4 linked regions of the Homo sapiens genome follow. The protein of the gene in region 1 purifies or fractionates together with the protein of each later gene. This does not show direct contact. Each region holds a gene or a part of one and is shown on either strand. Other genes may lie near its edges.

Evidence for each region.
Region 2: the proteins of SFXN2 (region 1) and TOMM70 fractionate together in Homo sapiens (co-fractionation; one large-scale study listed by BioGRID). This does not show direct contact.
Region 3: the proteins of SFXN2 (region 1) and ALDH1A2 purify together in Homo sapiens (affinity purification with mass spectrometry; one large-scale study listed by BioGRID and IntAct). This does not show direct contact.
Region 4: the proteins of SFXN2 (region 1) and ROCK2 purify together in Homo sapiens (affinity purification with mass spectrometry; one large-scale study listed by BioGRID and IntAct). This does not show direct contact.

What each region holds. Positions count from the first base shown.
Region 1 is NC_000010.11:102,720,821-102,724,754, reverse strand, and holds part of SFXN2 (sideroflexin-2), read right to left. Parts: intron 1-3,934. UniProt on the Homo sapiens protein: Mitochondrial amino-acid transporter that mediates transport of serine into mitochondria. Involved in mitochondrial iron homeostasis by regulating heme biosynthesis.
Region 2 is NC_000003.12:100,362,743-100,366,676, reverse strand, and holds the end of TOMM70 (mitochondrial import receptor subunit TOM70), read left to right. Parts: intron 1-959; coding exon 960-1,113; 3' UTR 1,114-3,246; downstream 3,247-3,934. UniProt on the Homo sapiens protein: Acts as a receptor of the preprotein translocase complex of the outer mitochondrial membrane (TOM complex). Recognizes and mediates the translocation of mitochondrial preproteins from the cytosol into the mitochondria in a chaperone dependent manner.
Region 3 is NC_000015.10:57,952,804-57,955,629, forward strand, and holds the end of ALDH1A2 (retinal dehydrogenase 2), read right to left. Parts: intron 2,467-2,826; coding exon 2,394-2,466; 3' UTR 626-2,393; downstream 1-625. UniProt on the Homo sapiens protein: Catalyzes the NAD-dependent oxidation of aldehyde substrates, such as all-trans-retinal and all-trans-13,14-dihydroretinal, to their corresponding carboxylic acids, all-trans-retinoate and all-trans-13,14-dihydroretinoate, respectively.
Region 4 is NC_000002.12:11,334,324-11,338,257, reverse strand, and holds part of ROCK2 (rho-associated protein kinase 2), read left to right. Parts: intron 1-3,934. UniProt on the Homo sapiens protein: Protein kinase which is a key regulator of actin cytoskeleton and cell polarity.

The sequences.
Region 1 (3,934 bases):
ACAGACAAGAACAGACAAATAACATAAGCAGTGATGGAAAATCTTTTTTTTTTTGAGACGGAGTCTTGCTCTGCCACCAGGCTGGAGTACAATGGCACGATCTCGGCTCACTTCAACCTCTGCCTCCCGTGTTCAAGTGGTTCTCCTGCCTCAGCCTCCCAAGTAGCTGAGACTACAGGCGTGCACCACCATGCCCAGCTATTTTTTGTATTTTTAGTAGAGATGGGGTTTCACCATGTTAGCCAGGATGGTCTCGATCTCCTGACCTCGTGATCCGCCCACCTCGGCCTCCCAAAGTGCTGGGATTACAGGCGTGAGCCACCACGTCCAGCCGGAAACTCTTAAGAAAGAATCAAAAGGAAATGTTGGAAATCAAAAATACTGTAACAAAGATGAAGAAAGTCTTGGATGGACTCATCAGTAGACTGGACATGGCCAGGGAAAGAATCAGTGAGCCTGAACACGTGTCAGTAGAAATTGTCCAAATGCAAAAGGCCCATCCATGGCAGACTGGATAAAGAAAATGTGGTATATGTACACCATGGAATACTATGCAGCCACAAAAAAGAACGAGATCACGTCCTTTGCAGGGACATGGATGAAGATGGAGGCCATTATCCTTAGCAAACTAATGCAGGAACAGAAAACCAAATATCACATTTATAAGTAAGAAAACCAAATATCTCACTTAAAAGTGGGAGCTAAATGATAAGAACACATGGACACAAAAACGGGAGCAACAGACCCCACTGGGGCTCACTTGAGGGTGAAGGGTGGGAGGAGGGAGAGGATCAGAAAAAATAACTAATGGGTACTAAACTTAGTAGCTGGGTGATGAAACAATCTGTACAACCCCAGTGACACAAGTTTACCTATGTAACAAACCTGCACGTGTACCCCTGAATCTAAAGTAAAAGTTAAAACAAAAAAAAGAAACAAATAATATTAATGCAATTATACTAATAGAAGGGCTTGGACTCAGATCCTCCATACACAAATTCTGTCTCTCATTGAGAAACACTGAGTCTGTGGTGGTAGGGATGGTGTGGGAATGTTGGTCTTCCTAGATCATTGGAATTACTATTTGGGGATGCATACCATCTGATTCTGTTAGTCGTTACCCATTTCCACCTATCCCATATCTTACAGAAGAATCATCTCAAGTACTAACTGCTTTATATCCCTTAAAACATTTCTAGTTGGGGCCAGGCGCAGTGGCTCACACCTGTAATCCCAACACTTTGGGAGGCCGAGGCGGTTGGATCACCTGAGGTCGGGAGTTTGAGACCAGCCTGACCAAGACGGTGAAACCCCATCTCTACTAAAAATACAAAAATTAGCCGGGCGCAGTGGCAGGTGCCCGTTATCTCAGCAATTCGGGAGGCTGAGGCAGGAGAATCGCTTGTACCTGGGCAGCAGAGGTTGCAGTGAGCCGAGATCACGCCACTGCACTCAAGCCTGGGTGACAGAGTGAGACTCTGTCAAAAAAAAAAAACAAAACTTTCTAGTCGGCCAGGCATGGTAGCTCACATCTGTAATCTCAGCACTTTGGAGGCCAAGGCCGGTGGACCACCTGAGGTCAAAAGTTTGAGACCAGCCTGGCCAACATGGTGAAACCTCATTTTGTATTTTTTTTTCTACCAAAAAATAGAAAAATTAGCCAGGTGTGGTGGTGCACACCTGCAGTCCCAGCTACTGGGGAGGCTGATGTGGGAGGAATGCTTGAGCCCAGGAGGCGGAGGCTGCAGTGAGCCAAGATCAAGCCACTGCACTCCAGCCTGGGTGACAGAGTAAGACCCTGTCTCAAAAAAAAAAAAAAAAAAAAAAAAGGACTTTCTTGGACAAACAAAACAGGAAATTTGTCACTGGCAGACCTGACTTACAAGATGTTAAAAGAAGTTCTTCTGGTCAGGTGGGATGGTTCACACCTATAATCCCAGCACTTTGGCAGGCCAAGGCAGGAGCATCGCTTGAGCCCAGGAGTTTGAGACCAGTCTGGGCAACAGAGTGAGACCCTGTCTCTATAAAAATTAAAAAAGAAAAAAACATAGCCAGGCGTGGTTGCATGTGCCTGTGGTCCCAGCTACTTGGGAGGCTGAGGTGCGGGGACTGCTTGAGTCTGGGAGGCTAAGGCTAAGCCTGCAGTGAACTGTGATCGTGCCACTGCACTCCAGCCTGCACGACAGAGTGAGACCCTGTCTGGGAAAAAACACTAACAAACAAACAAATAAAAATCTTTATTTCTCTTATTCTGAACTGTTAACAGTTAACAAACAGATACGTTTGTTTAAAACAATAGTAGCAACAATGTATTTGGTGATTACAGTTTATGGATCAGAGAAATCCATGACAGCAGTAATATCAAGGACAGGAGGGGAGAATTGGGAGGACTCCATTCTAAGGTACTTGCACACTCCATGCAGTGGTATAGTGTTATTTGAAAGTGGATTTGGATTAGTCATAAATGTACATTGCAGACTCCTGGGCAACCACTAAAAAGGTTTTCAAAAGAAGTATAATTGATATGCTAAGAGAGGAGAGAAAATGGAGTCATACAAAAAAAGCTGACGCTTTTAAATGTTTGCCTGAAAGCTTCAGGGAGTCATTGAAAGACTTTAAGAAGAAGAGTGACAAGATCAGATATGTAGTTTACTAAGAACAAACTGGGTAGTCATGAGAATAAACAGGATGTGGATGGACCTCACGGGATGCAGGGAGACCAGCTGGACGAGAACCCCAGTAATCCAGGCAAGAAGAGGTAGGGCTCAAATGAACCCACGTGCACTCAGAGGAGAGACCAACAGGAGAGAATCTTTCAAAGAAGCGGAATGTTAAGGTCTGCTAAGCAATAGGTATAAGAGGAACATTTTATCAGTCAAGGTTCAACCAGAGAAGCAGAATCAGTAGATTACAGACAGACAGACAGGTAGATACCAAAACATAACATGGGGCAACATGGAGTTCCTCTAACTCCTGAGCTCAAGCAATCTGCCTGCCTTGGCCTCCCAAAGTGCCAGGATTACAGGTGTGTGCCACTGCACCTGGCTATGACACACACATATACATATTTTATATATTTCTAAAATATATTTGTATACTATAATATATATTTTCTAAATATATAAATTATATAACTATATAAATATATAATTTTTTAAATTTATAGATATAGCAACATATATTTATAATATATAAATTTATATATACATTTATTTATATAGACATGAATTACGTTTAAATATAACATATAAAAATAATATATAAACATAAATAATTCATATAGCTATATAAAATCATATATAAATATATAACTTTATATGTTATAAATATATGTTGATCTATCTATATAGATTTTATAATTTTTTCTTCTTTTTTTAGGCAGGGTCTCAGCTGGTTGCCCAGGGTAGAGTGGAGTGGTGCAATCATAGCTCACTGTAATCTCAAACTCCTGGGCTCAAGGAATCCTCCCATCTCATCCTCCCTAAGTGCTGGGATTACAGGCATGCACCACTCCTGGCCTAAATATATATAATGCTGACGTAATATAATATTGATAAAATATAGAAATTGATTTATCACAAGGAATTAGCGAATTGGCTCACATAACTGTGGCTGTTGGCTAGGCAATCCTGAAGTCAGCAGGGCAGGCGGCCAGCAACAGACCATCCCAGGGGAGAGGGAGCAACGCGGGTAATGGCTCAGAGTCCAGAACCTCAGAGGGGGTTCAGGGGTGTTCTAGCCCTCCTTTAAAGGGCTTCCACCTGATTAGGTCAGGCCACCCAGGATAATCTCCCTTTTGATTAACTTAAAGCCAAACAATTGAGGAATTTAATTAGGTCTGCAAAATCCCCTCACAGCAGCACCTAGATTACTGTTTGTCTGAAGAGCTGGAAGATGGTGTGTGTGTGCTCCTGGGTAGCCACTATAACTGGAA
Region 2 (3,934 bases), on another chromosome or scaffold:
GAATTTGAATAAATGAAATTGCAGATTATCCTAGGATTTTGCAGATCTGCTAGCTGTTGGCCTAATGCCAGAACATGAACTCTTGAAAAAAGTTTTTTTTAAAAATAAGCCTATCACGTTGCCATATATTATAATGGGGGATTAAATATAGTCACCCTAGTGGTACCTCTTACTGGCATATAAAGTCTAACTGGCACATATGCCAATAAAATGTACCTTACTAACATGTATGCCAGTTAGACTCTGTATATGCAGGTATATATATATATAGTAGGGACTTAATATTCTTTGTAGGATTGCATATATATGTAGCTAATACTAGTTACTTAAAACAGTTGGTTCTTAGATAGCTGTGGATTTGACCAGAATCAGGCAGAGGCAATAAATCTGAGTATTTATTGAGTAGGTGTGAGGAACTCACATAGACTGCCTGAAGAGTAGAGATGCATGGGGTTGGGGATGTGCTGGTAAGAGATGAAACAGAAAGAGGTGGGCCCACATCAGTCTGTGAAGGTAAGGCCCTTGCATGTCATTAGTGTCCCGGTATTATGTCACTGCTTTCTAAAGGAGTCTCATGTTAACAGTAGAAACATGTAAAATTTAGGAACCAGACGGAATTGTGATTTTAAATAAGCCAATCAATTTCCCTAGTCTGACTGTTCTTATCAGTAAACACAGAATACAAGGGATATAATGTAAGCACATAGTATTTGTAATAGTAGTTGACATTCATTGAGTGCTTTCAATGTGGTAGGTACTCTTGTTTATTTTAAAAGAAGCATTTTACTAGAATCATAGTAGAAACTTAGTGGTCAGACTTCATGTAGCATCACTTACAACCTTCATTGAATATTGTGAAGAAACTTAGTGGTCAGACTTCATGTACCATCACTTACAACCTTCATTGAATATTGTGAAGTGCTTGTTGAATCTGAGACTTAAAAATTTTGTTCTTTTAGAGGAAACATGGAGAAAGCCATTGACATGTTCAACAAAGCTATTAACCTGGCCAAATCGGAAATGGAGATGGCCCATCTGTATTCACTTTGCGATGCCGCCCATGCCCAGACAGAAGTTGCAAAGAAATACGGATTAAAACCACCAACATTATAAAACAGGGGGAAAGCAGACTGACCCTCTTTTTAAAAGTTTACCCCCTCTTCAACTGAACCCTAAAGACACTGTCATGAACTGTGTTGAATGGTGGAAATCAGTATTTCTGTTTGTGGTGTTGTTATTTGTTACATCTGTTTCATGTCTAGGTGTTGTGGGTGTGGCTGTTGAAGGAAGTTTGCAGTCTTGCAGCTTTTATTCCCTGTGCAACAAAAGATTAGAACATGTTAAAGGGATTTTTAAATAAAGTTGCAAAGAGTACAAATGATAATTGGCCATGCAAATAAAAACTGATTTGTTGATTTTTTTTTTAAGGGGGGTTGGCAGTTGATTATGTTCTGGATGATTCCGTCTATATATGTGTGAATAATGTAAGTATTTTACAGCATGTTGATTTTTAAATTAACGTAGTAAATGCTGTAAAATAGATTTATATTCAGTTAACCGCTTTCAGTTGATTTTTTGAAAGAAACAAAGGTTAAATGGGGGATTAAAGTAAAATTGAGAGACCCTTTAAACCATTGTCAGCATGCACAATGCCTCTGATTCTGCAGTTTTAGAAACTTGGTGGCACTTATTAATCCTCTTGGCCCCTTTCCACTCTAATGGATAGTGTACATTCTTCTTAAAGTCCACAACAGCAGATTTTCTTGCAGTAAATTATGCAGATGCAAAATATTCTAATTGATATATGTGTTGGAAGACTGAGTATTGATGGGGGAGTGGACCAGACAAAGAGGTAAGATGAAACAGTAGTGTGTTTATAATTGTCTGTGACTATTTTCTATAATAATTAGTACTATTTAATGGTGAGCTTTTAAAAATGTAGGATAGAGGGTACAGTGGCACTGTATATACTATTTATAGTCTCAGCTACTAGGGAGGCTGAGGCAAGAGGCTTGAGACCAGGAGCTCGAGGCTGTAATGTGCCATGATGATTGCACCTGCGAATAGCCACTGCACTCCAGCCTGGGCAATATAGCAAGACCCCATCCTTTAAAAAATTTTAGAACTTTTTTAAAATCAAAGTGCAGATTGCTTGTATGTAAAACCCAAATAAAGGTAGAGTAAGTGTGATATATGGGAGTATTAAAATAGCTTAAAATTTCTCGTGAAGGACATGTGGCTAAAGGGTCAAAAAGGATGTAAGACTTGGAGCCAGAGCATAGTATTTCCTGAAATAACAAGTTTAGTGCTTTAACTATGGCTACATGTGCTTAAGGAATTTTGAGCCACTTATTTTTGAAGATGCTGAGGACATGTAGAGTGCTTTTTGTAGTGAGCTAACCTTGATCTCTAAGGACTAACTACCCAGGTCCAGGTCTTCACTAGGGGTACTGACAGTGTTTAAGCTTTACTCCACCTCCTTACTTAGAAATCACTTTACGATTTATTTCCATTTTCCACTTTTATAGACCATCCTTTTGCTTATATGCTAGATTTTTCTGGTGAGGGAAGGGTTGTGTTCTTCAGGGGTCTTTTGTTTTGAAATACTCAGGATGGGGAGAGGTTTATTTAAGAACGAATTATAATTATGGTTTACACTGTTGGGAGTAAAGGAGCATTTTTACACCCCTTAAGGGTGCTTAATTCTGTTGAAACCAAAAAGATTTGTCTACAAATGCTATCTTTTTTAGAAACTATTAGAAATGACTCCCTTTCAAAGTCAATCTTTGGAAAATATTGAGGAGGTCACTAATTAGTTGGTGCAGTTAATATAATTCAAGATGATTTGGATGATGGGAAGTTTGAGACCGCTGCATTTTGTTTTTAAATTATGCACCTTCTGATAACCCCCAAATACAGAAATGTTCTACATCTCTGAATGACCTCTGACTTTAAAAAAGTTTTTATTTGCATGGCTGTATTTACATTAACACTGACATTTTCTTCTACTCTTCTCCCTTCTTTCATCTTGGGGTTGGGTAGAGAAACACAAAGGAAACTGAAGCATGTGCCATTCTATACTGTCATTCCAAATTCTCATGGACTATTGCCTGTTGTGAAAATGTTTGAAACTGCACTGAAAGCTGCATCTGTCTGTATCTTTCTTTTGTAAATGACCTCACATGTAAATTCACCAAATAAATATTACATTCAAGCTCTTCTATCTATTCTTTAAATAGAAAGATAGGTAGTTTAGGCTGGGCATGGTGGCTCACACCTGTAATCCCAGCACTTTAGCAGGCCGAGGCGGGCAGATCACGAGGTCAGGAGATCGAGACCATCCTGGCTAACACGGTGAAATCCGTCTCTACTAAAAATACAAAAAAGTAGCCGGGTGTGGTGGTGGGCGCCTGTGGTCCCAGCTACTTGGGAGGCTGAGGCAGAAGAATCATTTGAACCCGGGAGGCGGAGGTTGCAGTGAACCTGCTGAGATCACGCCACTGCACTCCAGCCTGGGCAACAGAGCAAGACTCCGTCTCAAAAAAAAAAAAAAGGTAGTTTATTCATTTATTATGCTATTGCGTAAATTCACAGTGAATCTCTTGTGAACTCAAAATAACTTTGAAAATAGGAACATACAGGAAATGTTAGCATATGAAGCAAAGTAAGTTTGTTGGTATGAATGGTGGAGTTTCTTGAGAGCATCCACCCCTCCTACTGTGAAACAAGGCTCCACGGAGAGCTGGTAGAGCCAACTTATTTCATTCTTTGCCTCTACCTTACCCATACATGCACAGCAGCCTGGAAGCTTGCCAATCAGACATGGACCCTGTGGATAAGTTTATTTTGAATCTGGTTTCACCAGTGAGATTGATCATAGTTCTCAACCACGTGGAGTCTCTCAGAAAGCATACCTGAAATAATCATCCTCGAA
Region 3 (2,826 bases), on another chromosome or scaffold:
GGAACTTGGGTGGAGATTCCAAGGGCTGGAAGGAAAGGTGGGGAGCTGTGCGGTTCTAAAGGGTGGGAACCACTCCTCAAAAGCGCAACTCTGAGAACACACTGAGAGAAAACAAGCTCAATCTTGGTAGTAGTACGGTCACCATTTACAGATTTCTTTTTACAGCTGCAAAAATATTCCATCAGGTTATCAGCCTCTGACTTCATTTCACTTTGGTAAGTAAGTAAAAATAAAGCTACTGTGAAATGCCATCAGCAATGTGAGCTCACGGCGGGTAGTCCACGTTTGTGAAAACAGACCCTATAGACTGCTCTGCATTTTAGTTTTCATGGAGGCTATTCTAAAGGAAACTTGTTATTTCATATATTTCATATATGGTTATACTTACATGCCAGCTAAACTACACATGCACACAGATTTTAAATAGCATCAGAAAATAAGGTTTTTGTTTACCTTAATACCATTTACCAGTTGCCTTAATGAATTCTGTAAAAATACCCTTGCAGGCTTCTGCTCAGTTACCCAAGAGGGCAACACAGCTGAAAAACCCAGCAGCTGAGGAAGGACCCAAAGAGACTCAGTATGACCCAAAGACTTACAGACACAGCCAAACAATCCCAAGGAGTACACAATATAAATGCTTTATTGCTAGCACAGAGGTTTCTTTTTAAGTAAATTAAAAGAAATAAATCTTCATTTTCACATTTTTTGTTGCAGTCCAAAGGTAACTAGTTGGTTAGTGGCTATGTCCACTTGGACACATGCTACAGGAGGGCAGCATTCACATGGAAGCACTCAGAAATACGGCATCTGTCAGGGCTCACGGCACTGGGCTGCTGAATGCACTGTCGTTTGTAAATAACAGCAAGTGGAGACTTTAAAACATCATGGATAGATAAGAGTTATAAATAGAAAACTGGTACGGTTAAGAAGCAGAAGATCGTTAAATACAGAAGGCTATATATATGTTGCCCATATTCCACATACTCTGGGTTATGTTTGGTACTTTTAAATAAATGATCTGCATTTAGGTTAGAGACTGGATTGGATTTGACAGCTGGAAAGATGGAAGAAGGGATGGAAGAAGGAAAGGAAGCTAACACTTCCCACATCAAACTGGTGGAGTCACTGGAAAGCAGAAGAGGAGTATGTGGATGGGAAGAAAGGGAGGCGGGCCTGCTTTACTCCCTGCAAGCTGTAGGCCATGGCCTGCCCAGTGAGGGGCAAGAATGGGGTGTGACAGAGGAGCTCAGTGGAGCACGGCAGTCCTGGCACAATGGAACTTGGCAAATGGAAAAGGAAACCCCTAGGCTTGGCCAGATTTTCCAAGGTCACTGCCAATAGATACAGGGCACATTATGATAGATGTACAGTGTGACAGACCAAAATCACACCTGCAGCAGTTATTGGTGTAGAGGTTCAGAAGGTACAGATTCCAACTACAGAAATAATTCATTTAATAATAATTGTTGCCCAATATTAGAAACTGAATGATGTCTGCAAGGCATCCAGCATTATCAAATTCTTGGGCCTACTCGGATTGTTTTTTGGTTGGTTCTAAGAAAAACTTTGGAAAAGATCTTATCTAGCTATGAAAAACAACCCACTCCTTGCCTTATTCCAGAATAACTGAGAAGGAATCTAATACACACACACCCCAAAACTGCAGCAAGCTCAGAAGCGGTGAACTGCACATGATGACTTCCAGTCTCTATTGTCCCAATCTTTTTTCATTCATGTTATTTATGGGTAAAAGAAAACCAGATTGGGTCAGGAATATCCCAGGTTCTTACTACATCTGTAGTGTACCAGCTCCTGGCATTTTCATTCTGGTCTGACTCTAGCTAAAACCATTTCATGTTTTGCTTTGAAGAAATGGATAACATGAAATGATAATTTGGCTTTACAACCTTGAAAAATTGTTCCCGGCCCAAACATCTGCCCCAGAATGAGCTCAGCTGACATCTCCTTGGAAGAGAGGGAGGGGTGGGTGAGCGAGGAGGGCCTGGAAGGAGGAAAATGAAGACAGGAGAAAGGTCACCTTTCCTTGAGAGGAAAGTTCTTTGTGACAAAGACATGAAATAATACAGCTCCCTTATTTCATCCTGTGCTCCAGAAGGAGATACTGGATGTGTCTGCTAGCTCCTCCTCCTCCCTTTATCCCACTTTCCCCAATATTTGGTATGATTAAGGTGGCCCCTTACAGAGTGCCAAGAAACTGTACCCAGCTGGTTTGCTTTAGTTGTGCAGTGACCTGCCTGGCCTACATGTTATCTTTTCAATCTTTAAGTAAGGACCGTGGCTCAACTTTGTATTCCTGAGAGCTGGGCCCTACAGAGAAAGCAGAGAGGGACAGACGTGCAGGCTGGGCTTCATCCTCCTTCTTGGCCTTCTTAGGAGTTCTTCTGGGGGATCTTTACTGTCACCGTCTTAACTTCTGAGTACTCCCGCAAGCCAAATTCTCCCCTGAAACACAGAAATGGGCCGGGTCAGATACCAGAAGTCCAGGGAGCTGCATGTGAGTGCAGCGGGAGTCCTGGGGAGGTGCAGTTTATCACCTGCGAACAGCAAGTCCTGGGATGTTCATGTAAAAATTCCTCACGTATGCGCAGCCCAGCCTTCCTCTGAGGGTCAGAGAAACTGTCATCTCATGAGTAGTTTTTAAAGAAGTTTTTTTAAAACTTTAAAGTTTTTTAAAGTAGTTTTAAAGTTAAAAGGTGACTTGTTTTCACAATACTGCACAGACAGGCAATGACTCTCAATTACTCAGAGAACTACCATCAGCCTTGGCCAGAGGGCACACAGATGACCCCAGGCTGTGCTCAG
Region 4 (3,934 bases), on another chromosome or scaffold:
TTCCAACTTAGCCCCTCTAGTAGGGACTACAGGCCTGTGCCACTGTAATTGGCTAATTTTTATTTTATTTTATTTTTGCAGAAATGGGGTCTTGCTGTGTTGTCCAGGCTGGTCTCAAACTCCTGGCCTCAAGTGATCCTCCAGCCTCAGCCCCTGAAAACGTTGGATTAGAGGCCTGAGCCACTGCACCCAGCCTACTTTGGCTCTTAATACAGTTGTTATGAAAGTTTTCATTTCTTTTGGGTAAATTAAATACCTTGTAGTGGAATTGCTAACTCATAGGGCAGATATGTGTTTACTTTTTAAGAAACTGATGGCCAGGCATGGTGGCTCATGCCTGTAATCTCAGCACTTTGGGAGGCTGAGGTGGGTGGATCATTTGAGGTCAGGAGTTCGAGACCAGCCTGATCAACATGGTGAAACCCCATCTCTACTAAAAATTAAAAGAAAAAAAAAATTAGCCAGGCGTGGTGGCACGCACCTGTAATCCCAGCTGCTTGGGAGGCTGAGGCAAGAGAATCACCTGAACCCAGGAGGTGGGAGGTTGCAGTGAGCTGAGACTGGGTCATTGCACTCCAGCCTGGGCAACAAGAGTGAGACTCTGTCTCAAAAAAAAAAAAAGAAACTGCCAGATCTTTTTATGAAGTAGTTATACCATTTTATACTCCCACCAACAGTATATGAGAGTTCCAGTTGCTCCACATCTTCCCCGACACTGCTCTTTAAAATGTGATTTCGATTTGCATGATTTGCATTTCCCTCATGATGAATGATGTACTTTTTCTTGCACTTACGGGCCATTTATATATTTTCCTTTGTGAAGCATCTGTTTGAAGCAACATACCTCCATTTTTGCCCATTAAAAAACATTGGGTCATTTATTTGTATTTATTATTGAATCTTAGAAGTTCTTTTGTATATAAAGAGAACACTCTTTGTCAAATAAATGTTTTGTGAATGTTTTTTCCTAGCTTATGGTGTATCTCTCTCTCTGTCTCTTTTTTTTTTTTTCTGAGGTAGAGTCTTGCTGAGTTGCCCAGGCTGGAGTGCAGTGGCACAATCTCGGTTCACTGTAACCTCCACCTCATGGGTTTAAGTGATTCTCCCTCCTCAGCCTCCTGATTAGTTAGGATTACAGGCATGCACCACCACACCCGGCTAATTATTGTATTTTTATAGTAGAGACAGGGTTTCACCATGTTGGCCAGGCTGGTCTCCAACTCCTGACCTCAAGTGATCCACCCGCCTTGGCCTCCCAAAGTGCTGGGATTACAGGCACAAGCCGCCATGCCTGGCCCCATATCTCTTTTTTTAATAAAAATTTTTAATGGTTGTTGCTTTTCTGCCCAAGTAATTGTCGCCATCCTCATGTCGTGAAGATATTCTCCTTTGCTTTTTTCCAAAAGCTTTATGGTTGACTTTTACATTTAGGTCTAGGATACATTTTAAGCTAAATTTAATGTGTGGTGTGAGTTAGGGGTTGAAGTTAATTTTTTTTCTCCACATAATTATCCAGTTATCCAGACTATCCTGCACCATTTTAAAAAAATTAAGTTTTCTCATTGGATTGCTTTGGCACCTTTGTTAAAAGTCAGTTTACTGACAGTTGGACTTTTAAATTTGCTTTTCTACCACCTTAGTAGCTACACCGGATCATCAGTCCTGGTTCTATTGTTTAACCCATGCTCAATTCAAAAGTCATTTCTTGGCTGGGCACAGTGGTTCATGCCTGTAATACCAGTGCTTTGGGAGGCTGAGTTGGGAGGATTGCTTGAGGCTAGAAGTTTGAGACCAGCCTGGGCAACATGGTGAGATTTGTCGCCTCTACAGAAATAAAAAAATTAGCCAGGCATGGTGGCACAAACTTGTGATCCTAGCTGCCCAGGAGGCTGAGGCAGGAGGATGGCTTGAGTCCAGGAGTTTGAGACTGAGTGAGCTGTGATGGTGCTGCTGCACTTTAGCCTGGGTGATAGAATGAGACCCTGTCTCTGGAAAAAAAGTCATTTCTTTTTAGTTTTATCTGTACCTGAGGGAAGTGACAACCAACTATGGCTGAGAGGGAAACATAGATTTTATTTTTTAAAGTGAAGAAAGATTTGTCATTTTTTAAATTATAAAAATAATATGCTCTCGTTGTAGAAAATTTAGGGAGCATAGAAGGGTATAAATGCTAATAGCACTTATCTACAATCTCCTTCCTTAGAGATAATCACTGTTTAAATTAACATTTTGGTTTATATATCTTAACTTATATGTATTTAAAAATTACAGTATTCATGTGCTTTATCTTTTTAAATATTTAATGAATAGTATGAGTTTTATATAGTCACAATTATCAATCGTTTCACTGTAAAGTGATTTCTGGCTTAGTGGTCATGTTTAGGAAATTCTCTGTTACCAGGATTATATCATCATATACCTGACTTTTTGTTCTCACATGGCTTTATTTTTATTGATATTTTCATTTCATTTGGAATTCTGATGGAAAGTATGAAGTAGGAGTTCAAAGATTATATCAGGAGATTGAGATTTGTCTAGGTATTAAATTTCCCAAAATATTAATTGGGAGTTTCTGTTTACATCTCTTTATTATACTTTCTATTTGGAGAGTGGTGATTGGGGTGAGAAAAAAGGTTTAATGATTAAGGTCTAATGATTATAGGTTAGGTCTCTATTTGGGCCTCTTGAATTTCTTCATGAAAATACTATACAACTATACTTAAAACTCTAATTTGTTAGTGATAAGGATTACTGGTGGAGAGAATGTGGATGACTCAGTGCAACTTACAGCTTTTAAAAATAATAAAAGAACATTTTCCCTTGGTGGACTAGCATATGGAGCTTACTGTTTAATAAATTGATGTGAAATCATGGTGCATTTGGGGCTCAACTAAAACTATACTCACTTTATCCTTAATTGGAGTCATTTTTCTTTCCTCTCATCTGTACTCCTGCCCCCCTTTAAAGTATTATTAAATTATATAGATATTCTTGTAAATTCTGCAGTTAGGTTTTCTAAATGACCCTCACATATCTTTTCAAAAAGCATTTGGGTCACAATACTTAGCATTTCTCTCATTCCCCGCCTTCCCCTTCCGTGTGTGTGTCTGTGTGTGTGTGTGTGTGTGTGTGTGTGTGTGTGTGTGTGTATCAGTCAAAGGGAACTATTTGGATTCATTTTTAGTTCATTGTCAATAATATTTTGGGGAATGTTTCTAAGTCCAGGAATGATTTTATGGTTTGGTACTTCATTTTGGTAAGGTATGGGCTGTTTGTTCAGATATCTAAAGTGCTTTATAATTTTTTTTTGTCATAGGTGATTGACCACTTATATTCAATGTCTGAATTCCTTTATTCTCTAAAAGAGTTTCACCTCAGATTTCTTTAGTTATAAAGCAAGTGATAGACATTTTATTTTCAAGGGATTATAGACTTGGAACAATTTCTAATGTTTAATTATTGAGGTTTCTATGCCATGGAAATGAATTAGCGAAGTGTTCTCTAGCAGTACTTTATTTAGATAGAAACGCGCCAGAGCAGGGCTGGTATTGTCTTAATTACCTGCATGATTGTGTTGACAAATGCTTAATATGCTAAGCATTGCCTTCATATATGCTTCTTGGCTTTTGAGTTTATTTTTATTTAATGCACAGAATATGAGCTCTTTTAGTACGAGTCTTTTATGTTTTCCTATTCTGTAAATATTTGTTGAATGAACTAACAATTTTTTTTTTTTTTTTTTTTTTTGAGACAGAGTCTCTCTCTGTCGCCCAGCCTGGAGTGCAGTGGCACAATCTCGGCTCACCGCAATCTCTGCCTCCCGGGTTCAAGGGATTCCCCTGCCTCTGCCTCCCGAGTAGCTGGGACTACAGGTGTGCACCACCACGCCTGGCTAATTTTTTGTGTTTTAGTAGAGATGAGGTTTCACCATGTT